Homo sapiens: one gene and its partner. The protein of the gene in region 1 interacts with the protein of each later gene in a pairwise test. Each region holds a gene or a part of one and is shown on either strand. Other genes may lie near its edges.

Region 1 (17,553 bases):
CATCTTCCTTTTGACCTTTTTACCTCGCTTTGGTGGCTGTGAAATATTCCCGCGCAGGAGCTGGAGCGGGGAGGAGTGGGGCAGAGCACGGGAGGCACAGAAGAAATTGTCCCCGAGGAAGGCAGAGTGGGGGCGTGGCCCCAGGCTTCCAGAACCCCGAACCTTTGTCTTCTTGCCCCCTCCTGCGTCGTCCACAGCTCAGAAGGAAGTCAGCGACCAGAAAGCCCTGAACGTCCTTCGCGCCCTCGCCCACCCCCGGGCTGGGTCTCCCCGCGGGCGCGGAGATGCCGTTACACCCCACGTGATCCCTGCGCCCGGCCAGTCCTTCCAGAGGCGTCTCGCGGGGTGTTAATTAAAGGTCACAACAAAACAGACCTGCTGGCTCACCAGAAGAAATGTCCTCCCGTGAAATGAAAAATGACACCCCAGAGCAGCCACGTGTGGAGCCTGGCATACGCCGGCTTCCTGCGCTCCTGGGCGCTGCGCCGGGGGACTGGGGCGGGGGGCGATCGGAGAGGGAGCGATGACGGGGTGCTCCGGAGACCCCGCGGGGCCCAGGCGCAGGAAGAAACGGGCGGCGGGGGGCGAGGGGCCCGATCCCACGCAAGGAGAGGCCAAGGCCAGCTCGCGCCACACCCCCTCTCCAGGCCAGAGTCGTCCGCGTGCAGCGCGGCGAAGCCCTCAGTTTCCCCTGCCCGGCAGCGGCCCGCTGGGTCACCAGGCTCACCTGTCCCAGCCCCGGGCGGCTTAGTCCATCACAGACCGGGGCTCGGGCGGGCGGGGGACCAAGGGCCCTAGTCCTGCGGCTGCGGTCGGGGAGGGTGGCCCCCCGGCCGGCCCGGGGTCGGTAGGGCAATTCCAGAAAAGGTTTGCCCGGCAGCTCTCCGAGAACAAAGGGCGGGGGGAGGACCCGGCATGTTTGTGGACTTGTTTGTGACTCAATCCCTTTTGCACGGCGTTTCACAGACAGACCTGCAAGCCTTGTCAGGAAGAGAAAGAACTTGGGGGCGGGGGAGGCTGGGGCACCGCATTTCCGTCCAGCCACGCTCGCTCGCGCGGCCCCCGGGCTCCAGGCTCGCGCAGCGGCGTTTCATTAGAGCCCCGGGCCCGGGCCGCGCGCCAGGAACTTCCCCGCACGCGGCGAGATCGACGATCCCCCGCCCCCAGCCCCAGCCCGGCTCCAGGCCTCGCAATGTCAGGCACGAGCGCCGCCACATAAAATGGATCCCGGCCGGCGCGGCGAGGGCGGCAGGTTCCCGAGGCTCCTCCGCGCTGCGCCCGGGCGCACACGCGCGCTGTGACCGCCGACCGCTCCCGGGCCACGCGGAGCCGCCCCTCTCCCGGCCCTCGCGCAACTGTCAGGCGAAACGGGCCGGCGGATATTGGCTCGGCGACACGCCGAGGCTCCTCCCCGAGTCTGGATCTTTATATTTTGGGAGAATTTCTTTGAACTCAGTTACCAAGCTCGGTGAAGGAGACAAGTTCCCACAGCTGACTCGGCTCGGCTCTCCCACCTTCCCGGCAGCGGCCGCGAGCCCTGATTGTATCCCTCGCTTTCCTCGTGGGGGAGCACGGACTGACTTGGCTGAAGAAAATGCCAGTTCTGTGGATGTGGCCGTGACAAGAGGACGTGCGGCTGGAAGAGGCAGAAGGGGACGAGGAAAAGCATGCTTTGAAGAGAAGAATAAACCAGCGACCCCAACCCTTTCTGCAAATTGGTGCTATTACTTGTGGGATCCATTTGCTTTCATTCCCTCCCACCCCACCGCTGAAGAAACCTTGCCCTGAGGGCTGAGAGCCAGCCCCCTGCAGCCGGGGGACGCTTCTGGGTTGGAGGACCTTCTGGATGTAGCGTCGGTGGAACCTTTAGATACTCTCCTCTGGAAAAGCCACCATGAATTCGGTAGCTGGGAATAAAGAGAGGCTTGCGGTCTCCACCAGGGGCAAGAAATACGGGGTAAGTTGTGACGGTACGACGCGGAGACGCGTTACCAGACCCATCTCGGCGGAGGTCCCCCTTTCCCCGGGATCGTGCGGCCCCGGCCCCGAGCTCTCCCCCGCTGCAGAGGCGCCCCCGGGGCTGGCGGGGTTGTGAGTGCGCGGAGGCGGGTCGGCCGCGGGGACGCCCGCACGCTCGCCTCGCTCTCGGAATTTTTTCAGCCCTCTCGTTCCTTCCTTTCCACGCACCCGTAACTTTTGCCGCATTCCTGCACTTCTAGGCAGAGTGAAGCCGAAGGGGAGGGTTTCCCATGAATGCTGGGCAGTACCTCGGATCGTTTAGCTGGAGCCGTGAGAGCCTCTCGTTTACCTGCAGGATCCGGAGAGTTGGACCCCGTATGAATAAAAATCCTGAAATCACAGCCCTCCCCCTACCCCCCCCATAGGGTCTTCCAGGATTTTGTTCCCGGGATCTTGCTGGGATAGGTGCCGGCTTCAAAAGCGTGGGGCGCTGAACCTATGGATCCCCCCCGCCTTGCAGAAGCCGTGGAAACGGCCCCGAGCGAGTCCCCTTCCTGACCCCAGGAGGAGGCCACCGGGGACCAGCGCAGGGGTCACCTGGGCGGTGGGGACTCACTTAAGGACAATTAACGAGACAGACGGAGGGCAATTTGGCCGCAGGGCTTGGAGAGGTCCCCAACCGACTCCCGTGGGCGGTTCGAGCGGGTACTTGGTGGCGCACGTATGACCCAGCTCCTGGGCGCTGCAGCCCGCCGCCTTGCAGCCCCTGACACCGGCGTGTCTTCCCCGCAGGTGAATGAAGTCTGCTCGCCCACCAAGCCCGCAGCGCCCTTCTCCCCGGAAAGCTGGTACCGGAAAGCATACGAGGAGTCGCGCGCCGGCAGCCGGCCCACTCCTGAGGGCGCGGGCTCAGCGCTCGGCTCCTCGGGGACCCCGTCTCCCGGCTCGGGCACCTCGTCCCCGAGCTCGTTCACCGGCTCCCCGGGACCCGCCTCCCCCGGCATCGGCACTAGTTCGCCGGGCTCCTTGGGCGGCTCTCCGGGCTTCGGCACAGGCTCCCCGGGCTCCGGCAGCGGCGGCGGCTCCTCCCCCGGCTCGGACCGCGGCGTCTGGTGCGAGAACTGCAACGCCCGCCTGGTGGAGCTCAAGAGGCAGGCCCTGAGGTTGCTCCTCCCGGGGCCCTTCCCGGGCAAGGTGAGCGCCGCGCGGGGCTGGCTGGGGAGGCGCCGGGAGGGCGGGGCCGGGCCGCCACCCACAGCAGCTGCTCAGCCCGCCGCGACCTTGCGCGCCGGCTCCACGCGAGAGCCCCCGGCGGCGCTGGGGATGCTCCACACCTCACGGGGCTCTAGCACGCGGGGCGACCCATGCCCCTTCCTCAGCCAGGCCGCCCGGGGGGCAGGAGGACCGAGTCCCGAGCGCGAAGGGGCGCCCGTGGCCACAGGCCTCACGGCCCACGGGGGAGGCCCCCAGGTGGTCTCTCCTGCCGCCCCCTCCCAGCTCTCCCTGGCGGCTGCAGGCTGCGCTTTCGATGTTTCTCCCCACCCCCACCTGTGATCCTTTACAAAAATGTCAGCGGGAGCTGTAAAAGCAAGCTGATGCTCGGAGCTGGCATTTCCCACTGCCTGTTTGTGGTCCATCCTTTCCGCGGTTGCAGAAACAGAAACATACTCGAAAGCCAGCATTTTCCCCTTCTCAGTCTGTGTGTGTGTCTGAGGAAGATCCGGAGGCGGGTGGCTCTTCGGAGCAGTGCTCCCTCCTGGCCTGCTCCTGCGCCAAGCACACTGGTTCCTCCATAGCAACCCTGCCCGCAGTGTGTGACTGGCCCGAGCCCCCAGGGGATAGCAATGCGATTGTATTTGCACTGTTGGGTCCAAGTACTATCAAATGATCATATTTACTCGGCCACTTCAAAGAGTTTTTATCAGTGGTTAGAGAGCAATATCAAGGAAATAGAGTGGATTGCTGTAGAGGTTTTTGACACTGTTGGTTCAACGTCAATTTCTGGTTTATTATTTCCGTGACTTTAGAAATGAAATACTGTGATTTCGAGTAGGCGTTTAGGAATGACTGCGTCTGCTGGCCCAACCTGCGTATGCAGATACACACGTTGATGTTTTCATAGGCAAGGGTTAAATTCAACAAATGCCCACAGACGCTGTGAAACTTAAAATGGGGGAAATGACCACCAGGAGAATTGGTTTTATGAATGCAGAACTTATCTCAAGAATAATGAACTCGTGGATGGTTGTCAGTGTACCGTTTTTGTAGTTTGATACATCTGCCGTGACATCCCAAGGATACATCTCAAGGAATCAAAAAGCTTATTTCGCTCTTGCGTGCTAGACCTTCCGATTTAACACCGTTTCTTCATTCACAGATTTATTTGCTCTCGTGATCCTTCATCAATATTCATTGATTTTCTACTCCATCCGAGGCACTGTGTCAGGCACAGCAATGAAAATACCAGGTCCATTCATGCAGTCCTTGTCCACGTGGAGCTTAGATTCTAGTGGAGGATACAGATAACAACCACAAAATGCACAGTTCACAATGTCTTCACATTTGTGGAGGGAATGTAGGGTGCTGTGAGGTTGTTGAACTGGATGGGAGCATCTGATAAAGATGGAAGGACCTTGGTTCTTAAAGATCTAGTAGCTGATATTTGGCAGTCCTAATACGTTACAGCCTACCAAATTATTTTAGACCTTTCTTGAGGACCTATTCTTATAATAGGCTTATTGTGGCTTTGGGTGTTCCTATATGCAAAGGCCGATCAAAATACACTCTTCTCATTTAAAAAAAGAGGAGGGGAAGGAAAATCTACAGAGGAAACAAATGTTGAAACTCATACGCATCCATCATGTTTTATGGAGTCCTGTGACCAGCTGGAATCTTGTTTTTATAGAAACAGCCTGGAACATTCACTTACAGTGTCACGGGAGGCAGCTCAATATATTTGCCAATTTTATGTATGTGATAAGGTAAAACTCTTGTTGGTAAACTGATTGTATTGTCAGAGTGAGGTGATGGCCCCAGAAGAAACACTGGATTTGCTGAACCCCCATGCTCTACAATGACTTCGAGTGATCCAAGGACATCTAGAGAAGACCTGGCAGTCATGGGGGCAGTCACAGGGGATCACTTTAAGTGCATACGTGAATGTCACATAGTACCACAGTCGCCTGAGTTTTATATGTGAAGCAGCACAGTAAAGCGTGACATTTGGTGCAAGGGCATAGACAGGGCTCAGCCAGGAAGAAGGATGCTTTGCATCAGCTCATTGTTAGTAATGAGATGTGGGGCCTCAATTTTAACTACAAAATTTCTGCAAGCCTTTGTGAATAATAATTGTGTGTGTGTGTGTGTGTGTGTGTGTGTGTGGTGTGTGTTTTAAGCATTTGTACCTTGCATTTAGGTACAATTTCCATTATACCTTTAGCATTTGCAACCTTATAGCCAAACAGTTGCCATGTTCTCTGGTGTACCATGGATGGAGGCCATGTAACTTGGATAAGACTTTTCTTCTTCCCGGAGCAATATTAATGAACAAACTGTGGACCACTGTAGCCCTCAGGCACAGAAGGAGTTAAGTTTCATTAGAACAAGAGGTGTCACTGTGACTCCAACATGCAGTTCGCTCAGTTCGCTCTGAAGAGTAAGAGTCTGGAAGATAAAGACATGTTTTTGAGGAGTAATTAACAAAAATCATCTGTGTAATTTGCTTAAGATGCTTACCTGCATTTGGGAAATATTTTCTTAAATAGAGTGTTAAATTCTACTAGGTGGTATTAAATGTCTCCTAGGTAGATATTTAAAAGTCAAAAGCAGAATAGCACATCCAGGAACCTTAATATTTTAGGATGGATTTGGTTTTGGTTCTTCTTCACCACTGATTTACTTTGTGACATTGGGTAAATTAGTTTTCCTCTCTACTTTTTAACTTTCCTATTAATATCCTAAGGAAAAAAATGAATGAGACTATTAAAACGTCATTAAAATGATCCAAGGTAAGGTCTGAAAAGTGCTTTCATTCTTTAGAGAAAGATATGAGGGTTGATGATTATTAATGAGCTAAGATTCTGTTAGATTTATGTTTTACAGAATTTAAGGTTTTTCTTATAAGATATTACTCCTGTCAGTTTCTAATTTCATCTGTATATTTTCTAAACATGCTGCCATATGAGTTCTCACACTGTGCCTGTTGGTAGGTAGCAAGCCCTATTGAATCCCCCGTTCTGTCTTTGGAACAGTTGGTTAAGGAGGGGAGGTGAAGTAGTAGAGAGCCCATTCCGGGTATCTGGTTGGTTCCAGGAGCTAGTGCCTGGCTCTGGTGGCCTGAGAAGAACCATCTTATTCTGAGCACTCCAATGGAGGATAGGGCTTCATGGTAGAAAATGACATTATTTGAACGTAACGGAGTGGGTGATAGTGTTGGCTGAGGTAGGAAATAGGAGGAGACATGGAATTGGATGGAGCTCAGAGGGAAGGATGATCATGAGTTTGGTTTTCCATGCAGCGAGTCTGAGCTTTCTGGAAAGAGATGGAGGCAGATTTAATAATAAAACACTTTGTTTTTGGCTATCTCAAGACTGGCGTGTAGAAGTGACAGCTGTGAGCTCACATAGCTCTGCTGTTGATACTCTGTATTCATCCTTTCCGATAGCAACTTACCTGGTGAGTAGACGTTTGTGCTTGGTGGCAGATTGTAAAACACTCAGATTGACTTTTATTACCTTGATCAGTACAAAAAGTACTTACTGGGTTTATATCGTTTCTCTTTTGGTGCCGGTGAGTGGAAGTGGTCGGATAAAAGAATGTGGACGTGTAAAGTGTTGAGATTTTAAGTGAGAATGGCCCTTTTACCCACTGTAGCCTTCCAGTGTGTGAATACAAAACCATTTCATGTCCAATGGCAAGAGCATCTTTCCTGCTTTGTACACAGTCAGGGCACTGAGCCAGAAATAGGGGCCAAGGAACGAATTGCTCAATTTTGGGCTAGCCTAGATCATTCTGATATCTGTGACAGAACTTTTGAATGGACTGGGCAAGTCCTACGAAACAACAGCCCAACGAAATTCCCTGGAGTAAGCAGTAAAGCTCCAGGTTGGCAAAAGGTTATCAGACATCTGTTCATTTCCATATCAATAAAAGAAAATCTTTTATGTAAAAAAAAAAAAGTGCAGAACTATGTTCCTATCTGATTGTCTCTCAGTCAGATATTCTGAGTCCATTTATGCCCCAGAAATATCAGGAAGATTAGCCAGACATACTGAGAAGGGTGGCCAGGAATCACAGAGATGAAAGAAAGGAATGCGTCATAGGGGTTAAAAACGCCAAACGTGGACTCTAAATAGCCGGAGACCAAGTAAGTCTAGACTTGAGGAGATATAGATATCCCCACATGCATATTTCTGTATTTTGCCAGCTCCAAAAGAGGGGTATGGAAAAATAACTAGACGCAAAAAGTCCCCCAAAAGCCATCATAAAACATTTTATAGATAGGATAAAACAGACATTGCATTTCGAGTACTTATTAATTATAAGGGACTTCTAGCTGAAATCTTCTCTTTCTTCTAAGAACATGTGGCTATTTTCAAAAAGCTTCATTTGAGTCTTTCTCATATCAGAAGTATTTTAGATAAAGGAGCAGTTAGTAGATAATAGCAGTCATGAAAAAGTCCTACAGCATTTATCATTTGAAAATTTCTGAAACATTTTGGGAGTTTATAAAAACATTCCCAGGAGAGACATGTGAGCAGTAATCTCTTTTTAAGGCTTAGCAAGCTGTGGAATAATGGCAGTTCATTCTACCAGACTATTAATTGTGAAGCAACATGGTCAGTTTTTATAGTGACTTAATTCACTTTGCAAAAATCCCTGGCCTGCAATAATTCCTTCCACACCCATTGCAGATAGGATTACTACATTAGAAATGTGATTTTTAAATGGCTGAGGCTGGTAGTTTGTCAGCATTTGGAAGGATTAAGTCAATTAAAATGGAGGCAACATCAGTTGCCATTTGTTATTTGGCATTATATCACAGATTGTACCATGAGTGGGCCAACAATAGCGATGATAGTAATAATAATAATATGTAATAAATGGCTAACAACGATTGTCCTACATACCACGAACTACACTGAAACACACACACACATAATCTCATATATTAAAATGAAGATGAACGTGATTTTTTCTTTTTTACCCTGGAATTCCAAGTGCTTGATGTGGTTAAGATCATAGAAGGAAGCATGAAGAAAAAATATGCAAGGAACAGAGAAATCCAATCACACTTTCCCCTAGAAGCTGTTAAGGGTCCCTGTGAGTAGAACTGACTGAGTGAGAGGCACCGGCTCGAGATGGTTATTATTTTTCCTGGGCTCACAGATGAGAATTTTACTTCCAGTGAGTGGGGAGGTTGGGGGAAAGTATGTGAGACTGTCAGGTTCTGAGTTGAGGAATTGTCTTGGCTGGAATGCAAGGGGCGGGGGGAAGGAACCTCCTTATATTTACGTGCACCCATTGGAGACCCTGTTGTCATCCCTTCCTGAACAGAAAACCCTGCCCGAGGGCCCCGTCCTGACCTTCTGCGAGGAAGAGTTCTTCAGCCGGCCATTTCAGTGCCCCATCGGCAGGGCGGCCAGACCTCTGCTCTGTTTTGTCCTCAAAAAGATTGCAAATTGGCTGGTGTCTGGGAGGGTTCTTGGTCATTTTGCAGGAATACAAGACAAATTTCCTTTTTACCACTCTCTGCAGTCACAAGCTATTCATCAGCATCCTTTCTTTCCTGTTTCTCGTCTATGGTGTTATTGTGGCGAAGGAGCACTGTTGAGAATGTGCTCCCAATCGCTCTTTTATACCTATAGATGCACCCATCAGAAATATCTTTTTTTTTTTTTTTTTTTTTTTTTTTTGAGACGGAGTCTCGCTCTGTTGCCCAGGCTGGAGTACAGTGGCGTGATCTCGGCTCACTGCAACCTCTGCCTCCTGGATTCAAGCAATTCTCCTGCCTCAGCCTCCCGAGTAGCTGGGACTACAGGCGCCCGCCACCACGCCCAGCTAATTTTTGTATTTTTAGTAGAGATGGGGTTTCACCATATTGGTCAGGCTAGTCTCTATCTCTTGACCTTGTGATCCACCCGCCTTGGCCTCCCAAAGTGCTGGGATTACAGGCAGAAATATCTTATTTTAAAGTACATTCGTGTAGATGCAAAAGGACTGGGGATACACCTGTATTCCTAATGTACTTTTGAAATATTTGTCAAGATATCAACTCAGTTTGTATCCATCATTGGCTTACCATTGCCTTTGGAACTGCTCCAGAGCCTATCTGAGAAAATTGGAAATGAGTGATTGTTAAAAAGATGTTTGTCCACCTCCAGGTCTCAAAGAACTCACCTATGTTTTCTTCTAGTATTTAAATAGTGTCCTTTTTAATATTTAGATCTCTAATCCATTGAGAGATTATTTTGGTGCAAAATGAAAGATATAGATCAAATTTCATCTTTCTCTAAATGTCTATCCAGTTGTCCCCACTTTATTAAAACATTCTTCTTACTTGCAGACTTCTTCTTGTGAAAAAAAGAATTTATCTTTCTCACATTAATTGAAGATACCACCATTGTCATAAATCAAATTTTCAGTTGTATCTGGACCTATTACAGGATCTTCTAGAATGTTCTCACTCTGTTGTCCAGGCTGGGTTACAGTGGCACAATCTCGGCTCACTGCAACCTCCGCCTCCCAAGTTCAAGCAGTTCTCCCGCCTCAGTCTCACAAGTAGCTGGAAATACAGGCACGGACCACCATGCCCAGCTAATTTTTGTATTTTCAGTAGAAATGGGGTTTCACCATGTTGTCCAGGCTGGTCTTGAACTCCTGACCTCAAGTGATCTGCCTGCCTTGGCCTCCCAAAGTGCTGGGATTCCAGGTGTGAGCCACTGCGCTTGGCCCACACTATTTTAATTATGGAAGCTCTGTAGCATGTTTTCATGTTTGGCAGGGCTAGCTCTCTCTCCCTCAAATAGTGCCTTTCTTTTCTAGGAGTTTCCTTGCCTAACTCCAATTTTTTTTTTTGTTAGGACCGTGTTGAATGTATACATTAACCTGGGGGAATAGTTGGCATCTTTATGGTGTTGAATCTTTCCCAAGAACATGGAATACCTTTTCATTTGAACAAGTCTACTTTTTAGCAATTTTTAAGAGTTTCTTCATATAGGCTTTGCACATTTCTTGTTAAACTTTTTCTTAGGTATTATAGCTTTTGTTGCTATTGTAAATGGAGTCTTCACTTTCATTATCTCTTTTAATTGATAATTATTTATGTGAAGGATATTGATCTACATGTTTTATATCCCGTCGCCTTATTAAATTCTACTATATTCACTGATTTTTAAAAAATTGGTACTCTTGGATTTTCAAAAAATTTTGTCTTCTTCAAATACAGATATCATTACTCTCTTCCTTTGCTATTTTTATGCCTCTAAGTGTTTTCTCTTTTTTGTTACATTGGCTGGTACTCCTGACACAATGTTACATAATAGCGATATAGTGGGCATGTGTATATATTTTTTTCTATTAAGATGTTGGCTTTTGGACTGAGATCTGTCTATATTTTTTAAAGTTAAGTAAATATCCATCAATTCCTACTTTAGTGTTTTATTAGGAATGGGTATTATATTTTGCCAAATGTCTTTTCAGTATTTAGAGAGAGAATCATGCAATTTTTCTCCTTAGATTTGTTAATATTGTGAGTTATTATTATTGATTTTCTAATAGTGAACCATCCTTGTATTCCCATAATAAACCCCACTTGGCCACAGTGCATTTTGAAAGATATGCTTCTGGATCCAATTTGCTAATATTTCATTTATTGTTTTTGCTTTGATATTCATATGCCAATGAACATTTTTGATTCCTGTTTATGTGCCAGTTCTAGTACTATGCCACATTATAATCCAAATAGGAAAAATACTAAAATTCCTGCCCTGGAGCAACTCACAGTCTAGTGTCAGAGACAGGCAAGGAACGTGGCGAAGCGTAAGCGTTCCAGCCACAGGAAACGGCAGGCATAGGCCAGGAAGGGGTGATGCGTGCCCCCTACATATGGGGAACTGAAGTCGCACATGGTCACCATACACAGTATTTGTATGAGTGCGTGACAGGCTGGAAAGGAGGCAGATGGAGGATGAAAGGCCTTGTAGGCTATAGGCTGGACTTTATCCTGTAGGACGTGGGCAGCCATTGGAGGGCACTCATGAAGGGAGTGAAATGATCAGATATGCATTTAAGAAAGATTGCTGGCCAGGCACGGTGGCTCACGCCTGTAATCCCAGAACTTTGGGAGGCCAAGACGGGTGGATCACCTGAGGTCAGGAGTTCGAGACCAGCCTGGCCAACATGGTGAAACCCCGTCTCTACTAAAAATACAAAAATTAGCCGGGCGTGGTGGCCCACACCTGTAATCTCAGCTACTCGGGGCTGAGGCAGGAGAATCGCTTGAGCCCGGGAGGCGGAGGTTGTAGTGAGCCAAGATGATGCCACTGCACTCCAGCGTGGGTGACGGTGCGAGACTCCATCTTTAAAAAAAAAATAAAGATTGCTGTGAGAATGAGCAAGAAGATGGGTTGGAAGAGTGGTGTCACCGAGACCAGTTGGGAGGCCCCTTGCAGTGGCTTGAGTGAAGAATGACACAGACTGAACTAGGGTAGTACAGAGGGAAGGGAGAGGCAGCTCCGGCCTGACACATATCATATGTAGAAAACCCGCCATGGGGAGCTGCTGAGATACGGGGCCAGAGGGAGAAAAGATGATGCATTCTCCCAGGTTTCTGGCCAGGGAAAGTGTGTGGGTGGTGCTGCCAGTTATGGAGATGAAGAATACAGGCAGAGAAGGGGTTTTGTTATTGTGAGCCCAGTGTTCGAGGATGGCTGTGGATGTTAAATTGATTGGGGTCTCTAGAGCTTGAGGTGGAATGGTCCAATGGGCTCCTGTTGGCGCTCTAGAGCGGCTTCTGAGGTGGAGATATGGATCTGGGGGATGTCAGCGTAGAGAAGGTGATGGAATCCACAGACGGCATGAGCTCTCCACAGATGTGTGGGGTGAGACGACAGACAGCTGAACATGAAGTGGTGGAGACCATTGACATCGAAGGGACCAGTGGCCTGAGGAGCTAAGAAGACAGACCAAGAAGGAGGGACCAGAAAAGAGGGATGAAAAACCAGGAGAAGACAGTGTCATGGGAACTGAGGAAGGAGTGAGCTTCAGGGCATAGGGGTGACAAAAGGTCTGATGCCCTGGAGAGGTCAAGGAAGTAAGGACTGAGGTTTTCTTTGAACTGGCAAGGAGGAGGTCATTGGATGTCTTTGTTGGAAGAATTTCTGGTGCCCTGGAGAAAGCCAATGGCATTGTGTCCAGGAATAGATTGAGAGGTGAGGACATCTCAGGCAGCATTTGAGTTGCTGAGGACACTGAGATACAAGAGATCCACTTCTTGAGGCTCTTATTATCTTAAAATGAAGAACTACAATCAACAGACTTGCGTGCAAAACCAGGCTCCGTCACTTAGGGTGTGACCTTGGGCAAGCCTTGGTCTTTCTAAACGTGGTTATTCTCATCTCTACAGTGGGAGTCATGACAGAGCCCCACCAGGAGGATCGTGAGGATTAGGTGAAATTGTGAGATGCTAGTCAACCATCGCTTTCTGTTATTATTCCAGTGACTTTCCACAGGAAGTTGAATTTTATATAAGATTCCTACCCTCCTTCCTTCCCTCCTTCCTTCCCTCTTTCCTTCCTTTTTTCCTTCCTTCCTTCCATCTGACACGAAAATGGAGAAACAGCAGTCAGAGAAAATGAAAGCATTCAGTGCGTCTTTGTTTCTTCACCTCCAAGTGGATAAAGCATCTCATTCTTATTTATTCATTTGTAGAGTTGTCACCACAGAAAGTTTAAGGGAGCTCAGTGGATGTAAATAGCGACTCCTTTGGGTTGAGGTGCCATGAATATGGATTGAGAGTTTTTTGTCACAGATGGAAATCCCTTCTTTAAGCCCGGCCCCTCTCGTAGCCCCTCCAGGGAGACTTGCAGATGTGGCATTTGGCATTTCGGCTCCGGGGAATGAGGGAGAGCAGATTTCCTCCAGTGACTGCGCATGCGATGTGCAGATCTGAGCCGCACCAGGAATTTGGGCTTATCTGCCTTCCAATCCAGCTTTATCTGTCTCAGACGGTTTTCTTTGCAGTTGTACTTTGCTGATCCTATCACATCGATTCCAACCAGACCCCATGGGAAGTCTGGGAATAAAGAAGTCACCCTCCCCCACCAAGCAGGATATCCTGCACATACATCAGCTCTCAGGGCTGGAGGTGACCGTGGAGGAGAGGGATCCTGTGAGCTCTAATACAAAAAACCGAGACATTCTGAACGTTGCTATAGAGGTTAGCAAAGCAGAAGGCTCTGAGGGTAGAGTAAGTATTATTAATTTTTTAAATATGCAGAACGATAAATATGTCTTAAGTGTTATAGACCAGGTTACAGCTGAGGGACTATTTTGATTTTCCTTTTCTACTTATTGGAGTTTACGTTCAATACTGTTGCCAACCACAAAAAGTTATTGGAACAAATTTTAGCTCTCCACACAGCATGGTTCTAAAATCTTTGATGGTTCTTACGTGTAAACTTTCTTTTTATATAATTGTTTTTTTTTTTGCTTGAAAGCATGAGCTGCAAATAATAAATTAAAATCCGCTTTTCTATCACAGGGGTGACAAATAGAAACTTTTATTTTGATATGTCCTTATCTAAGTGATGTCTGAGGTCTGTATATGCTAATTCAGGATTTTTTTTCTGAGCTAACCTAGGAACCGATAGAACTTGAGATTTTTCTGCAGTGTAATTTTGTCTTTGAGTTGGCAGTGATGAGCAGCTACACTTCCCCATGAAACTCTATCATCGTATTTAGAGTGGTTGCTTTCTTTGGGGTTATAATCACTACTTCCCAACCCTTCCTCCACCTAACTGGTGGCTTCACACAAGAATGGGAGACTCACCTATTAACTGATTAGAAGCCAGCAATAACAACCAGCACCAAAAGCTGTCGAGCTATCTAACCAAATGGTTGTACAGAAAATAAACAGCTGAATTCAGGCAAACAACTGGAAGCAGCCACCATTGTTTAAAAAAAAAAATCACCTGCCCAGTTCAGTTGTGTAACTTTGCACAGCAGGGAGTCTCAGTCCTAAGCAGGTGGCAGAGTGTCTTCCCCATGGTACCATGGCTGGGAATTAGAGCATCAGGTGTCCTTTACCAAGACAGGCAGCGTGGTGATGGGGGCTGAGGGATAGATGGGAGGAGGATAGAAAGGAGAGGAATAAGAGGGGAGGAGGAGGAGGACGGATGAGAGAGAGGGCGAGGAAACAAAGAAATGGGTGGTATACGCATCCAAGGTTGTCTACAATCCCAGATATTTAGGTGAAAAAGGACTGTCCTTGGATCTGGGGACAGAGGTGCAGTCCTGCTTCCAGCACTGATAAGCATTATGATCTTGGGAGAATCACCTAGCTGGCCTGTGCTTGATTTTTCTTTTGTAATCTAAGAGCATGGTAGTCGGTGGGCTCTAAGCTTCTCCCAAGCCTGTGAGTCTCTGTGAAGCTGAGGCTTTGGGAGTCCACTCCGTGAACCCAGATTCCACAGGGATGTGCCTGGCAAAATCCAAGTGGGTTTCTGGCTGAAGCTGTTCTGTGGGCTGCCATGTTTGTGGGACATCTCATCTGCAGCCGCCGCAGCGACCTCCTTGTCCGTCCAGCCAAGGGGAGGGACCGGAAGCCAAGCGGAGGGGCCGGTAGCGCCGTCGTTGCTGATGCTTCTGCTTTTGGAATTCGGATCATAAACTGACAGGGTTCTTCCTGTTTCTTAATAAAGCTATTTGTTTTACTGTCTAATGTGTTTCTAAGCAGAAATAGACAAACAAAAGGACAATTGATTCTAGAAGAGAGATTTAGTATGGAGTATTTGAAGAAAAGTATTGCCTTAGAAATAAGGATGTTTTGTAGTTAATTTTACATTAAAAGTTCTGCCATATTGATTAGGATTTAGAAATAACATACGAAGAGTTCTTCCTGAGTAGCAGTATAGGAACACCAGAACTCTATAAACATTTTATTCATCATTCTTCATCTGATTTTTTTCCAAAATCTTTTTGCTCCCTTTGATTTCTCTCTTTTTTTCTGCTCTTTCAAATGCCTAGACAGAGCCATATTGATTAGGCCAGTATTTACATATCACATGCCCCTGACGTGGGTTTAATGCCCCGTAGTGTTTGATGCTGTGGTCTGGGAAAGAATGGAACAGGTAGCTGCCCGCTGAGTCAACGAGGCCCATGCAGTTATCATCGATTTTTATTTTTCTCTTTAATCATTTAGCCAAGGTTGCCTCTTTAAAATATCTACTTCCTGGGGGATGTTTCCCTGACTCTTATTTCAAATCTAATACTTTGTATTTGAGTCTAAACACAATTCAGGGAATATAGCTATTAAAAGCAGAACTTGATTTTGTTTAACTAGTCCAGAGCGCGTGATGGCTTTGGAGCAGAGTGGAGAACAGGCACAGAGGAGCACGAGCCCCAGGAACACCACTTGGTGCCCCTCCCTCGTCCTTCCACCGAGCTCTCTGCACGTATCTTACCAGGGCGTGAATGGAGCATTCTGCAGCCAGACACATCCAACCCACAGCAAACCCTCCATGCAAGCTTGCCTGTGTCCTCAGACATTCTACCCTTTATTTCTCCTCTTGTTCTTTGCCCCTAAGTTTGTCCATGCACTCGACTTTCTAACGGGCCATGGTGTGTGTGTGTGTGTGTGTGTGTGTGTGTGTGTGCGCGCAAGCACTTTGTGGAGGCCCTGAAGGCAGCATGTAAGGTGGTAACACGGTAGACATTCTGCCCCAGGTTTCAGACATTGTTAGGCTGAAGCTTTTATTGGAGGTCAAGGCAGCTAATAAAGTGGGCCGTGCAATTACAAGAGCATTCAGCAGAGAAGGATGGCTGACCCTCTCGGCAGGCTGAGAGCAGAGGAAGCGGTTGGCAGCTCCTAGTCCTCCCATGATGGCTTTACAAGCATTTTTTGCAGCCGGGGTGGTAAATGCGATACAAAGGCATGGTTTCAATATATCCAATGAGGCACTCTGCTTCCTGTGTGAGGCATCCACTTGGGGGAAGGAAGTTGCCCGGCTGTGGGCTTTTTGTGGTGGTGGTTTCTGCTAATTTACCTTTTTTATAGAGGGCTCATAATTATTAGGGATCCTCCATAATGCCCCTTTATGGTGGTCAGGAAGGAGATAACAAAATGATGCAGAGGTTTAGGAGGCTTCTCCAGGGTCACCCAGAAAACCTCTGGATTCTGAATCTCCTTCAAAGATTTAAGAGGATTTATTTATGCTGCTCTCTTGCCCATGTGGATCTCCTTGACACTACACTCCGTGAGCGTAGTTAATGTCCTGTCTTGTTCACTTTGTTTTTTGTTTGGTGCCTGTGTACCAAGTAGATTTCTGGTGTTTTGAAAAAAAAAATCACCCGTCCACTGCTGCATAACCAAAACGTCACTGGTGTGAAGGAAGAGGATGATAGAGGATGGGACGGTGGTGACAAATGGCGGGATGGGAGATGATGCCTGGGTGAGTCCTGGAAAGTGCCGTGATGCCATCCCACTGACATGGCCTCCTGTATTCCAGCAAAGAGTGAAATTCACAGGGAGCACAGAGTAAGAGCAGCGCCTTCACCTCGGTGGAGCTTAGTCTAGGCATTTATGGGTCGGCTGGTTTGAGGGTCCTTGCATTTCTTGTCAGTCAATACGTCCTTGTTTTGGCTAAGTCTCATGCCCTCATATCCACTTCTACCCTTGCAGAATAAAGACATGTGGGAATGCTCACTGGATGCTTACAATTGGTTCCAGGTGTTCCAGGGACGAAACTTATCAGAACCAAACATAGAGGGCAAATGTCTTAGCCAATTCATGCTGCTATAACAAAATACCACGAACTGGGTGGCTTATAAACAACAGAAATACTGATTTCTCACGGTTCTGGAGGCTGGGAATTCTGAGATCAAGGCCCCATCAGATTGAGTGTCTTGTGAGGTCTGCTTTTTGATTCATAGATGGCACTGTCTTGCTGTGTCCTCACGTAGTGGAAGGGACTGGCTAGCTCTCCAGGGTCTGTTTTGTAAGGGCAGGAATCCCAATTATGAGAGCTCTGCCTTCATGACCCAGTTTGCTCCCAAAGGCCCACCTCCTACTACCATCACTTTGGGGGTTAGGTTTCAACATGATTTTGGGGAGAACATAAGCGTTCAGTCTGTTGCAGCAAGCATGAGGTCACTTGTCTAGACACTGACCCCTCAGGCAGTGTTCATGTTTGGTTTAATTTTTCCCTTTATCTGGTAATTGATTCTGCACTGTCTCCATTATTTGGTGAGATGGTAACATGTGATTACATCCCAATGGAGTTGGGCATGAGAATAAGAAAGAAATCTCCCTTTAAAGGCTTTGGACTACCTTGGAGTTTGAAGAGAGTGGAGGAATGCAGTGAGCTGGTTTTGATC
Region 2 (16,015 bases), on another chromosome or scaffold:
CACAAGCATCTCTGCTGTCTCTTCCCCTTCTTCATAAGGGCACCAGTCATATTGGATTGGGGCCTACCCTAATGACCTCATTTAACCTTAATTGCCTCTTTAAAGGCCTTATCTTCAAATACAGTCCCATTAGGGGTTAGGGCTTCAACATAGGAATTTGGAGGGAACACCATTTCATAACGCTATCTCATTGCACATTTTTTTCACATAAGTCATATGTAATCTACAGTTTGAGGAGAATCTGAATAAACACATTTGGGTCCCCCAGTTCAGAACTATATCAGTGAGGTCTCAAAGAGTTCAGGCCTGGGACGGGTCTTGCAATACAGATCAGGTGTGGTAGGAAGAATATGGAAGGAGTTTACAGTAGGAGGACTGTTGTAAGGTGGCCTGGTAGCAGCAGGATGCTTTCCTAATGGGGGTAGAGTGTGTATGCTGGGGGGATAATGGAAGATGTTCGGATGAGTTTCGGGGGATTCCCAATGTGGTCTGCCACCTGAGCTGATGGCAGAACACTGGGATGAGGCAGGAAGCCAAAAGTGGTGGCTTTCAAGCGTTAGTAAGCAAAAACTCACCTGGGTTACATACTCAGAATGCATGTTCTTGAGGTCACCCAGACACAGTGCGATGTCCCCGCATATCAGAGGGTAAGACCAGAAAGTTTCCAGTTTTAAATGTCTCCCCATATGATTGTATAAAAGTTTGAGAACCATGGGCCTAAGGCGCTATGTAGGTCTTTTAAGAGCAAAGTGGAGCACTGATGTGGGCGTGGCCTCCTAGGGATCGTGACCAGATGCCCGCTGGTGCTGAAACTGAAGAAACTTGTGAACGAAGATAAGTGGAGAGGCAAGGTCAGTTACCAGGACTACGAGATTGAGATTTCGGATGCTTCAGAGGTAGAAAAGGAAATTAATAAAGGTGAGTACCCCCTGTTTGGATGCCTGGTCAAGCCTTCTGACATGCATGGGGTCTGTTTGTAACTGTTCATACTCCCACCTCCCTGGGCCTGTGCTGTCAGGACACCTTTCTCCTGCACATCAGGCCACGGTTCCTTCTACTTCTTTTACCTCATTATGACCAGCACGCTTGGATATCAGCATCTGATAGCAATCATTTATTTCTGGCCAGGCACAGTGGCTTGTGCCTGTAATCCCAGCTCTTTGGGAGGCTGACACGGGGGGATTGCTTGAGCCTAGGAGTTCAAGACCAGCCAGGGCAACATAGTGAGACCCCGTCTCTTAAAAAAAAAAAATTAAAATAGCTGGGCAGGGTGGCATGCACCTGTGGTCCCAGCTATTCAGGAGGCTGAGGTGGGAGAGTTGCTTGAGCCTGGGAAGTCAAGGCTGCAGTGAGCCGTGATCTTGCTACGGCACTCTAGCCTGACAACAGAGTGAGACCCTGTCTCAAAAACACATGTATTGCTTATTATGTAAGTATCTAGAATAATGTGAATTTTAAAATGTCCCCACATATGGATGATCTGTCCCTTATTCAAGGGCTTCCCTACTTAGATCTGGCAGGAAGAGGAGCCAGATATGGGGGTGAGGGAGCTCCTCCCCCTGTTCCTTTGTACAAGGAACTCCACATTGTGGACAGGATCGTCACTGAACCCCACTCAGAACCAGCACCCTTTTCTAAGAAAGAGGAGTGACTGTGTTTGCATAATCCCAGCTTAGGCTAATTCATGGCAGGCCTCCATAAATGCAAACCACAAGGATCAATTTGAAGTGTCTGCAAGGGGAAATGACACCAGCAGTGTAGACAGGGTAGAGTAGCTGACAAAGAACAGCCTCTGTGAGATGCATGGATAACATCTTCCTATCGACCTTCATGTTTTTCTGGCATGTCACATGTTTAAGTTTCATTCACACTGGGAAGGTACTGAAGAGACATGAACTAATGCCCAGCAGTAGGAAGGGACGGGTTTAGCATTTGTAAAGATGGAGCATTAATCACATTTGTTGACTGTTTAAAGAAAGATAAATAATGTTATTGACAAACCGTGATTTTGAATTAGTTGGGATTAGGTTGGCTGCTTGCAGCAGAAAACTCAAAATAACTGTGTGCCTTAGCCCTTGCTGTATAACAAACCCATCTTAAAACTAATGGCTTGACCACTTTTATTTCTCATGATTTGATGGACCAGCTGGGCAGTTCTTCTCTGGGCTAGCTGGGCTGGGGCTGATGGTCCAGGATGGCCCTTGGCTGGAGTGACCGGGCCTTCTGTCTGTGTGGTCTCTCACCCTCCAGAAGGCTAAGCTGGACTTATCAATGTGGGTGGAGGGGTTCCCAGCAGCAAGAGAGGGCAAGACCCGACATCTAACACCTTTCGGTCTCTCCTGACGTGGCACTGTGTAACATCCCCTTAGCCAGAGAAAGTCACGTGGCCAAGCCCAATTTCAAGGGACCGATTTTCTCTCTCTCCATGGAAGTGACGAAGGCACCCTGTAAAGTAGCGTGCATACAGGGATGGAAGGGAATGTGGATGCCATTGTGCCAGCAAGTTGCTGAGACAGCGGTCTAAACAATGTAGAGGCTTTCTGTCCCTCTCATATAAGTCTGAAGGCGGGCAGACCAGAGCTGATTGGGGATTCCAATGTCAGGAACCAAGATTTATTCTTCTCCCATTTCTTCATTGGGTGTGGCCTCTGTTTCCAAGGCCCCCCCGTGACTTAGTCAGCAAGTCCGCTTTGAAGCCAGCTGGACCATGGCAAGGGGCATATCTCTGCCTTTGTAAGCACACTTTCTGGAAGTTGCACATAACATTTTCACATGGCCCATTGGCCAGAACCCGATCTCATGACCACATGGCAGGTACATGGATATTGGGGGAACAATTAGTGGACCATAACCACTGATATTTCCTAAGTTCTAAATTGATATCAAACATCCCAAAAAGGCATTCTAGATTTAGAAAAGAGTAAAGTGGTGTTAGCCAACAATTTGATGAAACAAATTCATATCCTAAAATTCATTAAGGAGGAAGGAGCAAAATAAAATCTCTTAATGGGATGTTAACAGCCAGTGCTTATCTTAGCTAAAATAAGCACATTTCCCCATATAATTTTCCAGTTTATATTTTAGGCATTTCCATATATTTTTATTTGTTTTTATTTTGCTTGGTTGCTAATTTCCTACTGACATCAATGAGAAGGATTTAGGAATGCTACCAGGAAGAACTTCTTGCCTCCGCCCAGCTTTGGACTGGTCTAAGTGGGTGTCACTCATGGTGACGTTCTCACAAGGTCTCTCTACACACAGTGCTGGCCAACAGCAGGGAAAATACTGAGTTATCCTTTGAGATCTCTTTTATCCCAATCACAGAAAATTGAATCTGCTCCAAATATGCTTTTATCCATGACTCGCAGAGAGGAGAAGATGCTTTCAGAGTATTCACCATCATGAGATCCGTTTATCCTAAGCTCTGTTTGGGTTTGATTTTCCCTGTCTCTTTTCTAGCCCAGAATGCCATCGCCGGGGAAGGAATGGGAATCAGTCATGAGCTAATCACCCTGGAGATCAGCTCCCGAGATGTCCCGGATCTGACTCTAATAGACCTTCCTGGCATAACCAGAGTGGCTGTGGGCAATCAGCCTGCTGACATTGGGTATAAGGTCAGACTTCAGACCCATTCTGACCTTGGCCGTGGCGTGGGGATGGGGGAGTGGAGGGGTGGGAGGAGAAAGAGGGTACTGTATTAGAGTAACCGTGAGTCCAGAGCTGAGTTTTGGAGTTAGTATTTGGAGGTGTGAGTGGGGAATTTAGAGAGCCCGTTGGTCACAGTCTGTTCTGTCAAGTTGAATGGAAGCTTCTTTGGAGAAAGTGAGGCCAGTGGGCACAGTTGGAAATGTGTTCTGTGTATTTGTTTTATGTTTTATGCAATGACTTGTTTTTGGTTATATACATTTTGCAGCATATCTAAAGTGCTGTGTATTAGGAAGGGGTCTTATGTGGGAAGAGAGCATTAAAAATAAGTATAATGGGCCACACACAGTGGCTCAGTCCTATAATCCCAGCACTTTGGGAGGCTGAGGCAGGAGGATTCCTTGAGCCCAAGAGTTTGACAGAAACCTGAGCAACATAGTGAGACCCCCTTCTCTATAAAAGAAAGGTTAAAAAATTAGCCAGGTATGGTGGCGTGCACCTGTCAGCTACTAGGAGGATTGCTTGAACCAGGGAGGCTGTGATGAGCCGTGATTGTGCCACTGCACTCCAGCCTGGGCAACAGAGCAAGAATCTGTCTCAAAACAAAAAACAAAACAAAACAAGCAAGAAAGAAATAGGTATAATGATATTTTAGTATCAGTGAATCTCACTTTACAGATTAAAGATTTAGGGGTGAAGTGGGGTTTTTTGGCCACCATTTTTCATTGTGACCATCAGATCTGAGGTCTTAGGGGTTAATTATCTGAAACTTCATGGTTTTCCCTGAGCCTATAGCTCTGCTTCTGCCACAGATAATTTATTTTCTCATAATTCCAGCTTGGTACCTCCAGGGTTGTGTTTGTGGGTTCATTTCTCCAAAGTTACTTCTTTTGGGGGAAATACCCCTGGGACTCTTAGGGCCTAAAGCAAGTGCAAGGTCAGGACTTGTCTCACCTCTCACTTGCCTTTGCCATACTCACGAGTCACCTCCTCTCATTTCCTTACAGATCAAGACACTCATCAAGAAGTACATCCAGAGGCAGGAGACAATCAGCCTGGTGGTGGTCCCCAGTAATGTGGACATCGCCACCACAGAGGCTCTCAGCATGGCCCAGGAGGTGGACCCCGAGGGAGACAGGACCATCGGTGAGAGTGGGGGAGCCCCACTGTGCTCAGTGAGAATGGGGGAGCCCGCCTGTGCTCGGTGAGAATGGGGGAGCCCACCTGTGCTCGGTGAGAATGGGGGAGCCCGCCTGTGCTCGGTGAGAATGGGGGAGCCCGCCTGTGCTCGGTGGTCTGCCAGTGGGCAAGCGTCCCTCCAGTCTCCATGGGCTTTGCTCAGTGGGGACCTGCCTCCACTAAGACCTGCTAAGGGAGCAGGTTTGGTGCCCACCAAGGCCAAGTGAAATGAGCTGCTTTTGACTCTCACTGGCTAGGTTGCCTTGTAAGCCTTATCTACTTGCTCAGAAAGGCACAGTGGGCTCGGAAGCAGGTCAAACTCAGGAGGCACATGGTACTCATTAAGAATGCATTTGAGATGGGATGTCCATAACTCAAGGGATAAACAAAACGTGGCGTGTTCTACAGTGGACCCGGGTGAAGGAGCTTGGGGAGAGCCACATGCTGTTCTGGGAGGCATCCCTGCCTTCACGCGGCTTGTCGTGGAGTTCTTTTCTGGAGCGGGGCTCCACTGCCCCCATGGTTCTGCAGGGGCTATGGCCTGTCCTCAAGCAAGGATGGGAGGAAACCCTGGGAGGCCGGGGGCGTGAGCAGTTGTTCGTTCACCTCTGCCTCGTGACTGAGCACGTTCTCTCCCCAAATACATCTGGCTCGCAGGAATCTTGACGAAGCCTGATCTGGTGGACAAAGGAACTGAAGACAAGGTTGTGGACGTGGTGCGGAACCTCGTGTTCCACCTGAAGAAGGGTTACATGATTGTCAAGTGCCGGGGCCAGCAGGAGATCCAGGACCAGCTGAGCCTGTCCGAAGCCCTGCAGAGAGAGAAGATCTTCTTTGAGAACCACCCATATTTCAGGTGCGCTTGCCTGGGTTTCATCATGGATCAGTCCAAGCCCAGGATGTCAGGCCTTCCAGGGGACAGTGGCAGCCGTCCCACAGATGTGTGGAGTGTGTGTGTGTGTGTGTGCGTGTGTGTGTGTGCGCGTGTGTGTGTGACTATGCTTGTTCCCCAACAAGGACTATGGAATTCACCTAGAAGAATAGGAAGGGGATTACAAAATACTGCCAAGAAAAAAAAAACTAAAAACCAATCAAAATAGGGAGAGAACAATGTACAATAATTTACGTAGCATGGTGCTGGAACCATATTTTATAAAAACATAAATAGAAGAGAATAGGAAAAAAGTAGAAAGCCCAGAAATAGACCTAGATATATATATTTGACACATGATAAATGCAGCATTTCAAATCAAATAGTGGACTATATCAGCTTGAGTATCTATTAGTGGTGTTAGGATAATTAATATTTGGGAAAAAACTAAAATACTGCCCTTACTTATCTCATTATACCAAAATAGTTAAAGTTTAAAGTTAAATATTAAGAGGAAGCAATAAGCATCTCAGAAGAAAGGTAGGTGAATAGTTTATAAGATTTTTCTATCCCTCCTACCAAAAGTGACATTTTTTAAAAGGAAAAGACTGACAAATTGGTAAGATTTAAAATGATGAGACTATGTAGAGTTGTAAACATTCTTACATTCAGTTCTCCCAGAAGCCTACAGAGAGCCATTACTCAGAATTCCAGGAATATCAAATGGAAACTTACATCCTGTTCTGCACATTCACAATTGCCAGAAGATGAGATGATTCAGTGTCCATTGATGGATGGATGCAGAAAGCAATGTGGTCTGTACAAAAACATGGAATACTTTCAGCCTTAGAAAGGAAAGACATTCTGACACATGCTACAACATGGATGAAGCTTGGGAACATTCTACTAAGTGAAAGAACCCAGTCGTAAGAGGACGGATACTGTCTGATTCCACTTAGCTGAGGTCCCTGGAGTAGTCAGATTCATAGAGACAGAAAGAATGATGGGCACCAGGGGCTGGGAGAGAGAGAATGGGCAGGTAGTGTTTAATGGGGCCATTGTTTCAGTTTGGGAATATGAAAAGTTCTGAAGACAGACAGTGGTGATGGTTGCATAATAGTGTGAATGTACTTAATGCCACTCAAGTGTACTCTTAAAGATGGTTAAATGGTCAATTTTATATGTAGTTTACCACAATTTAGAAAAATTGACAGAGAAACTGAAGCTTAGGTATGAGTATACTCACAAAAAGGCACAGAAACTCATGCTTCACTGCTGCCTTTATCCTAAAATGTCCTATAAAATGTGGGAAACCCTGTAATAACTCACTCTGTGAGCACAAATTTGGATCGAGTGAGAAGATACTTGACTTCCTTCCTCCAGGCAGCCCATGGTTTAAGTTTTTATCTTGGACAAGATATCTTGTGTCTCTTCTCCTCAGTGTTCTGCTACCCATTTATCTCAATATGCTTCAATGTATTTGTATGAAGATATGTCTGTATCCATTATGATCACCTACACATATTACACATAGAAGGGGGTATGTGTTATAAAAACATATCTATACATGTCTGTGTATTTTTGTGATGACCAAGTCTATAGTCAGACACCATGATACACATTTATTATATCAGCTGGAAGAGCTCATTCCATATCATTGTGGAAATATCCTAGATTGCTAAAATTCAGTCATAATCCTATTCAATCCAGTTCTGAGTATTTGTTGGGTACCAACTGCAAGACATTCCATCCAGTTGTAAGCAACTGAAATTTGCCTTGACTTTCCCCAACAGCAAAAAGGCAGACATGCGTGTTCTGGCTACATCAAGGTGGAAATCGGTCCTGTGTTCTCTTCTAGGGATCTGCTGGAGGAAGGAAAGGCCACGGTTCCCTGCCTGGCAGAAAAACTTACCAGCGAGCTCATCACACATATCTGTGTAAGCACGGGCAGAGCTGTGGGTTCTCTAAAAAGAATACTACGACCGCAGAGCTGAACCTTGCTGGCTTCTTAAACATCACTGTACACACAGATCTTCTGAGGATCTTGTTAAGATGCAGTTTCAGATTCTGTGGGTCTGGAGTGGGGCCTAGAATTCTGCATTTCCAGCAAGCCCCCAGACAATGTGGATATTCCTTTTCAGGGGACCACAGTCAGGGGGAATGCTGATAGACTATATCTACTGGGCCAAAATAAAAATTAAAATCTTATGCACAAGCTACTAACTCTTCCTTTCTCATTGACAACCACTATTATAATGTCTTAGTCATTCTAATGAACATATTTTTTAACTTCTAAAAGCTTTGTAAAAGCTCTCTGTGGTTCTTTTTAAAAGTCTGCCTGAATATAGTGTCTTCCTTTTTCAAATTTTCTTTTCTTTTCTTTTCTTTCTTTTTTTTTTTTTTTTTTTTTTTTTTGAGACAGAGTCTCACTCTGTTGCCCAGGCTGGAGTGCAGTGGTGTGATCTCAGCTCACTGCAACCTCTGCCTCCTGGGTTCAAGCAATTCTCCTACCTCAGCCTCCTGAGTAGCTGGGATTACAGGTGCCCACCACCATGCCTGGCTAATTTTTGTATTTTTAGTAGAGACAGGGTTTCACCATGTTGACCAGACTGGCCTTTTTCAAATTTTCAACTCAGCACCAGAGTGCAAGGTCTTCCACGTGGTCCCCAGGAATGCGGGTGCATAACAGGGTTGTTTCCAGCCGACCATGATGAGTGCAGAGCTCTCTGGGGTCCCACTGTATGCAGAAAGAGGATGCTTCCTTATTAGATTCCCCACCTCGAGCAAGCCCATGGGGATTGATTTTTTGCCTCTGCACCAAGTCAGGTTCATAAGTTCCCGTTCGAATTTTCTTACCTAGACAGATGCCCTTGTGGCTGAGCCGGGCTTCATTGCTGCCTTCTCCTTGAGCCCCTGCCTGGCCACTGTTACTGGGGCTGGCCTCTGACTACCCCTCACTAACTTGTGAGTCCACCGATACATTTAAAGGTGCAGCTTTCACATGTCAGCTGGCATTTTTAGATGTTTGCCGTGGAAGGGTGAGCCAGCATATGGCGTCAACCGTATTGTTAAAAACATAAGTCTCTGATCACTTTTTATTGATTGCAAGCAACATAAAAGTTGTTGAATCTCAAATTGCTCCAAATGCCACTTTTTCAGAACCTACTAGACAAGTGGATCTCTCCAGTCTCCCTCCAGAGAGTTTACCTAATATGACCACAGAGGAACTGCTCCCGGGTCACTCTGCCGGGGCCTAGGACCCATGCACAGTGGGTGCCACAGTGCTGCTCATGAGGCTGCTGTCGCAGGAGTGGGGAAGGGGGAAGACCTGGGCAGAAAACAGTGCCCCCAGTGTGTGCCCCCCTGCACCTCCCCCGGGTCTGGAAAAGCTTCCTTTTAGAGGAAGCCAGGAAGTCAAATGGCCCACACAACTCCTCTGCAGAGGGAGGCCCGGGACCTCCTTTTCATTCTCTGTTCATCTTTACACATTTCCATTATTTTCTCTCCATTTTCCTCAGAAATCTCTGCCCCTGTTAGAAAATCAAATCAAGGAGACTCACCAGAGAATAACAGAGGAGCTACAAAAGTATGGTGTCGACATACCGGAAGACGAAAATGAAAAAATGTTCTTCCTGATAGATGTGAGTGTTGCCAGCTGCATGGAGCTGGAGAAGCACATGTCATGGTCAAAAAAGGGACCCTGGGCCTTATGCACTTCCTTCTTCACTCCCCCAAGGCTGATCCAAAGACATCTGGCCCGTAGCACTCAAAGGGTGGACAGGGCTGAGGGAGGCAGGGCAGGGAGTGCAGATGTGGGGGTGGAGTCAGCAGCGAGGGATGCTCAGGCTGCGTTGTGCCTACTCTGTCACGAGCATCACCCAGATCCCTAAGGCAGTAAGGGGTGGGATAGGATTTTCTAGTGCCAAAACCTCTTCTTTCCCCTGATCCACAGTGTCCCATAAGAAAGCAAAGAATGACTCCCCACCCTCCACATAGGCACGGCCTCCAAATGACCTTGACACTTGGATTTGAAGTCTATCCACTTATACTGATGTTTTTCTTCTTGACAGAAAGTTAATGCCTTTAATCAGGACATCACTGCTCTCATGCAAGGAGAGGAAACTGTAGGGGAGGAAGACATTCGGCTGTTTACCAGACTCCGACACGAGTTCCACAAATGGAGTACAATAATTGAAAACAATTTTCAAGAAGGTGAGTGTCTTAGTCCCTTCTTTTGGGCTGCTACAACCGAATACCTGAGACTGGGTCATTTATAAACAGTAGAAACTTATTGCTCATTGTTCTGGAGGTGAGAAATCTATTCTTAAGGAATCAGGAAATTTGGTGTCTGGTGAGAGCTTGTTCTCTGCTTCAAAGATGGCACCTTCTAGCTGTGTCCTCTCATGGGATAAGGGACGAACAAGCTTCCTCGGACCTCTTTTTTACAGGGGTACCACAGGCATACCTCAGAGATATTGTGGGTTCAGTTCCAGACAAAAAGAATATTGCAATAATGCAAGTCATATAAACTTCTTGGTTCCTGGTGCATAAACAGTTCATTTATGCCCTACTGCAGTCTATTAAGTATGTAATAGCATTAGGCCTAAAAAATATGTATGTACCTTAGTTTAAAACACCTTATTGCTAAAAAATTGCTGGTACAGAAACAAAAAGTGAGCATGTGCTACTGGAAAAAAATGGTGCTGATTTGCTTGACATGGGATTGCCACAGACTTTCAATTTGTAAAAAATACGGTATCAGTGAAGTGCAATAAAACAAGATATGCCTGGAATGCCATTATGCGGGCAGAGTGCTCATAACCCAATCCTTCCTAAAGGTCTCCTCTGTTGATACCATCACACTGGGGATTAAGTTTCAACATAGGAATTTTTAGGGGACACCAACATGTAGACCATAGCAATGAGTCAATACCGTGGTAAACCTGATACGTTGGCTTAAGACAGAGAAGAGTGGGGCAGTTGGGGAGGATGGTCAGGATAAGGAGCTAGTGACAACTAAAGCCATGTTTGCTCTCTTCTATATCACTGAACCCAAATGACCATCCACTGATGAATTGATAAACCAACTGGCTTGTGTCTGTGTGTAGCGGTTGGCTTTGGCTGTCATAACAAAGTACCACAGACTTGGGGGGGCTTAAACAGTAGAAATTTATTTTCTTACAGTTCTGGAGGCTGGAAGTCCAAGATCAAGATGTTGGTGGAGCTGGTTCCTTCTAAGGCCTCTCTCCTTGCCTTGCAGATGGCCTCTTCTCATTGGGTCCTCATGTGGTTGTCCCTCAGTGTGTGTGTCCTCATCTCCTCCCACAAGGACACTAGGCAGATGGGATGAGGGCCCACCCTAGTGACCTGATTTCAATTTAATTACCTCTTTGCCTGTCTCCAAACACAGTCAGATTCTGAGTTTCTGAGGGTTAGGACTTCAACATTGGAGTTTGAAGAGGTCACAACTCAAGCTCAGCCCGTAACACCAAGTCCTGGAATATTTCCAGCCACAGACAGGCACAGAGTGCTGGTCCACAGCACCCCATGGATGAACCTTGAAAATGTCATGCTGAGTGAAAGAAGCCAGCCACAAAGGCCACACGGTCTATGATTCCATTGATAGAAAATGGCTAGAACAGGCAAACCCAGGCAGGCAGAAAGCAGAATAGTGGCTGCCAGGGGCTGGGGAGGGAAAAGTGGGAAGTTATCACTGATGGGTGATGGATGTGGGGTTTGGGAGTTATGTCTGGGGATGGTCGCACAACTTTGTGAATATACTAAAATTCACTCACCCATACACTTTTTTTTTTCTTTTTCTTTGGAGACAGGGTCTCACTCTGTTGCCCAGGCTGGGGTGCAGTGGCTCAGTCTCGGCTCACTGCACCCTCTGCCTCCCAGATTCAAGCGATTCTCCTGCTTCAGCCTCCACCTCCCTAGTAGCTGGGATTATAGGCACCTGTCTAATTTTTGTATTTTTAGTAGAGATGGGGTTTCACCATGTTGGCCAGGCTGGTCTCGACCTCCTGACCTCAGGTGATCACTGGCCTCAGCCTCCCAGAGTGTTGGGATTACGGGCGTGAGCCACTGTGCCTGGCCTGAACCATATATTTTTAACAGAGTGAATGTTATACTATGTAAATGACATCTCAATTAGAAAAATCCTTATGGGAAAATATTTCCTGACTAAAAAAAGTGTTCTAGATTACCACTCAAAAAGGAACTCAAACCCTCTGAACTTCTGATGGGGCTAACTCTCTCTAGTGTGGATTGTTGGGAGTACAAATCATTCCAAAAGTTTAAAGAAAAATGCAGCATCTTACACAGTGAACAGTGCTACTGTATCACATTCATACAAGTTGATGTGCCTGGTTTACTCTGTTATCCCATTTGACTTGTAAACACTTTCTACACATGGCAATACTTTCGACACATGAATATGTGATGTATTGTTAATTCCAGAAAGTGTTCATGCTCATTTCTAATGGGCATGCAGTTGAGGGCAAGGAGTGTATTATGGTACAATTTCTTTGGTAAAACTAAAATTGGATTCACAAAACTTCATACTCGAGTACGTTTTTAAGAAGGGGTCTTGGCCGGGCACGGTGGCTCACGCCTGTAATCCCAGCACTTTGGGAGGCCGAGGCAGGTGGATCATGAGGTCAGGAAATTGAGACCATCCTGGCTAACACGGTGAAACCCCGTCTCTACTAAAAATACAAAAAAATTAGCCGGGCGTGGTGGCGGGTACCTGTAGTCCCAGCTACTTGGGAGGCTGAGGCAGAAGAATGGCGTGAACCCGGGAGGCAGAGCTTGCAGTGAGCTGAGATCACGCCACTGCACTCCAGCCTGGGTGACAGAGCGAGACTCTGTCACAAACAAACAAATGAAAAAAAAGGGTCTTACTCGAAGTTTCTGCGTATGTGGGTTCCTGGCATCGTACCTGGCTCTGCACTCCCCTTCCTGAGATGACTAAGGAAAATTATCTTCAGATCTGGTTTTGTGTGTGTGTGTGTGTGTGTGTGTGTGTGTGTGTGTGTGTGTGTGTGTAATCCCTGGATATTTTTAGTTTACCAGTTAGATTTGATTTGATACCACTTTTTCTTGCCATTTATATTTTCAGAAAATTTAGAATGGTATTGTGTTTAGAAAAATGTGCAAGATTATTTTTGTAAAATAATTTAGAGGGTTTTTTTTCCTGCTATAGGCCATAAAATTTTGAGTAGAAAAATCCAGAAATTTGAAAATCAGTATCGTGGTAGAGAGCTGCCAGGCTTTGTGAATTACAGGACATTTGAGACAATCGTGAAACAGCAAATCAAGGCACTGGAAGAGCCGGCTGTGGATATGCTACACACCGTGACGGGTGAGTGCTCAGTTTCACCTCTGAGCATTGATTTCTAAAGAAAGGAAAGGTTCGAACCAAAGCCAGCACCAAACTTCAGCACTTTCCTCCTGGGGTGCATCCCACACCAACGAGCAAACCTCTCATTCTCCAGATGCCAAGTTGGTATTCAACAATTCAATTCAATTCTGACACTAACTACCCTCAGTCAGTGTGGACCCCATAGCTTAAGGGCTCAGTTCCACAACACTGGCCCCAACTACAAATGCCGGTCACAAGTCCCAGACCTCCTATTCTTCTGATGGACTGTTTATAAATCAAGGTTCTTGCGACCCATTCCTCAGGTCAACCAAGAACTCTGGAACACACTTCACTGACATTTACTGGTCTATTAGAAAGGATTTGATAAGGGGCACAAATGAAGCTGTTGGAGAGGCACATAGTAGGGGCCTGAACACAGAAGCTTCTGTCCCCACGGGGTTGGGGGCACCATCCTCATGGCACAGAGATGTGGTCATCAACCAGGGAGCTCTTGGAACCTCACCGCGGAGAAGGTTTTATGGAGGCCTCATCATGAAGGCATGATGGAGGATTGACTCAATCTCCAGGCCCTCCCTCCTCTGTGGAGCTGGAAGTTCTAAGTTTCTAGCCAAGGCTTGGTCTTTCTAGTGCCCGGCCCCAATCCTGAAGCTATGTAGGGGCCCACCAGGCATCATCTCTTCAAAACACGAGATACTCCTAAGGCTGGACATTCCAAGAGATGTAGGGGCTCTATGTTAGGAAATGGGGACAAAGACAAAATATTTATATTTTTCCTATCACACCACACCTCCCCCCTGCTCCACTGCTATGCTGGCTTCACACTCAAAATCGGCTGTTTATTTGAAATCTCCGAGGAGTAAAGCCAATGGTTCCATAACTGCACGTGTAGATGTGTTTGGAACCTTTTGGAGTGCTGTAGGAATCTAGGTGTGTCACGGATAGGTAGGAAACTAGATCCTACTGTGGATCCACTCCCTTCTTGAAATGCTTTGCTTTCTTGGTTTTCCAGGTATTAAATCTCTATTCTTCATCCTCTCCTTGACTGACAGTATCCTTACTCACACTTCAGCTGCCTCATCTTAGCAGTAATTAATAATCACTCATGGATCCATGAACTAAGGAGCTGGAGATAGCCTCAGAACAGCTCATTCAGAGGTGTATTTCCAGTAAAATTGACCTTTTAGCCCTGATAATCATATACCAAAACCTGCAATCATGTTGTTTTGGTCCATTGTAGACTCTTAACTCATTCCAGAGGAAAGTTTATAATACTTAGAGCCTTATAGTCATAAAAATCAACATAGATATACCTATTTCTTTTTCAGAAATGTATGACATGGAGATCAATAAGAGGTTTTCAATCATAAAGATACTATACCTTGTATTACAATAAAATTCTGTGAGGAAGTAGAATAGAAATGAGTTTCAAAAATAAAAGATAAATAATATAAATTTTTTAATCTAAGAGCTTGTTCTTGTATTTTTTTCAAATGGATAATGTAGACACTCAAATTCCATTGATATATTTAAGAGTGATTTGACTTATATTAAGAGTTGTATTATAAAATATTAATATTTATAATTTAAAAGAAATTACATTCTTTGCAGCTATTTAGGATAAAAAGTTTAAATATCAAATAAATGTATGCCAGGGGTCATTTGCTTTTAAGATTCTTCCAGCAAATTATTAAGCAAAAAGAGCATGCCTTGCTTTTTCATGGTAAAGAGAAGAAGGGAGCGGGGAGAGGGGAAACTTTACTTCATACCATTTGATCCTCATATTTTTTTGCATCTTAAGAAGAGAACAAATGATCCTACCAATATTGAACTATTTTTCTCTCTTTGATTAGATATGGTCCGGCTTGCTTTCACAGATGTTTCGATAAAAAATTTTGAAGAGTTTTTTAACCTCCACAGAACCGCCAAGGTAAAACCAACCATGTGTTGTTTAAAAAAAAAAAAGAAAAGAAATTAAGCTTGACACTAGAAAATAGATTTCTTGGATGAGGATTATTTCAACTTTATTGTATACTTTTAGAACAGCAAATAACATCACTCACTAGTGCTTCTTCTGATGTTACCGGTGATGTCTGGTTAAAAGCAATAAAGGAGGGAGTGCTTAAACGCACAGAACAAGAGATCCACAGTTAGCGGAGAAGATTATCACATCTAAGGGCAATGGCTCCAAATCCAGAAACTCACTGAGGAAACTACATATAAAAATAGAATATTTCTGGCCCGAGTGGGCATGATGAGCCTGTAATCCCAGCACTTTGGGAGGCTGAGGCCGGTAGATGACTTAAAGCCAGGAGTTTGAGACCAGCCTGGCCCACATGGCAAAACCCCATCTCTACTAAAAATACAAAAAAGTAGCTGGACGTGGTGGTGCATGCCTGTAATCCCAGCTACTTGGGAGGCTGACACTTTAGAATTGATTGAGCCCAGGAGGTGGAAGTTGCAGTGAGCCAACATTGCATCACTGCACTCTAGCCTAGGCGATGGAGCGAGACCCCGTCTCAAAAAAAAAAAAAAAAACAAACAAAAAAACTTTCCATCCAGAGTGAGGAAAGAGCCTACAGGAAATGAGCCTGGGGGACAGACTGGGCCAAGAGACCAGACTTAGCCACTCTTAGAAATAGGTGTCCCCGGCACAGATGAGGAGCCTGGCCCCATGATTCACCAGCTGGAGGCCTTGGGATGTGCCACTTCCAGCCTGTGCCCCTGACTCCTCATTCATAAAAGAAGACTGATAAGGCCTTCCTCAGAAGGTTGAGATGGACGTGGAGTAAGATGTTTAGGATGCACCTGCCACTGTGCACTGTGCCTCTCCTCAAGGCCTGGAGGGTCCAGGGGTGAAGTTTCTCCTCCTCAGGTTTTGGCAACCAGTTTCTCTAAACCCCGGGAACATAAAACATAATTTTCTGACTTAAACA

The links.
Region 2: the proteins of KIF26B (region 1) and MX1 interact in a two-hybrid assay, tested with the Homo sapiens proteins (one study listed by BioGRID).

Annotation. Positions count from the first base shown.
Region 1 is NC_000001.11:245,153,531-245,171,083, forward strand, and holds the start of KIF26B (kinesin-like protein KIF26B), read left to right. Parts: upstream 1-1,454; 5' UTR 1,455-1,894; coding exon 1,895-1,957; intron 1,958-2,751; coding exon 2,752-3,153; intron 3,154-17,553. UniProt on the Homo sapiens protein: Essential for embryonic kidney development. Plays an important role in the compact adhesion between mesenchymal cells adjacent to the ureteric buds, possibly by interacting with MYH10.
Region 2 is NC_000021.9:41,436,235-41,452,249, forward strand, and holds part of MX1 (interferon-induced GTP-binding protein Mx1), read left to right. Parts: intron 1-780; coding exon 781-918; intron 919-3,459; coding exon 3,460-3,614; intron 3,615-4,652; coding exon 4,653-4,791; intron 4,792-5,481; coding exon 5,482-5,680; intron 5,681-7,553; coding exon 7,554-7,632; intron 7,633-9,213; coding exon 9,214-9,336; intron 9,337-9,765; coding exon 9,766-9,907; intron 9,908-10,879; coding exon of another isoform or gene 10,880-11,058; exon of another isoform or gene 11,059-12,902; coding exon 12,903-13,061; intron 13,062-14,932; coding exon 14,933-15,009; intron 15,010-16,015.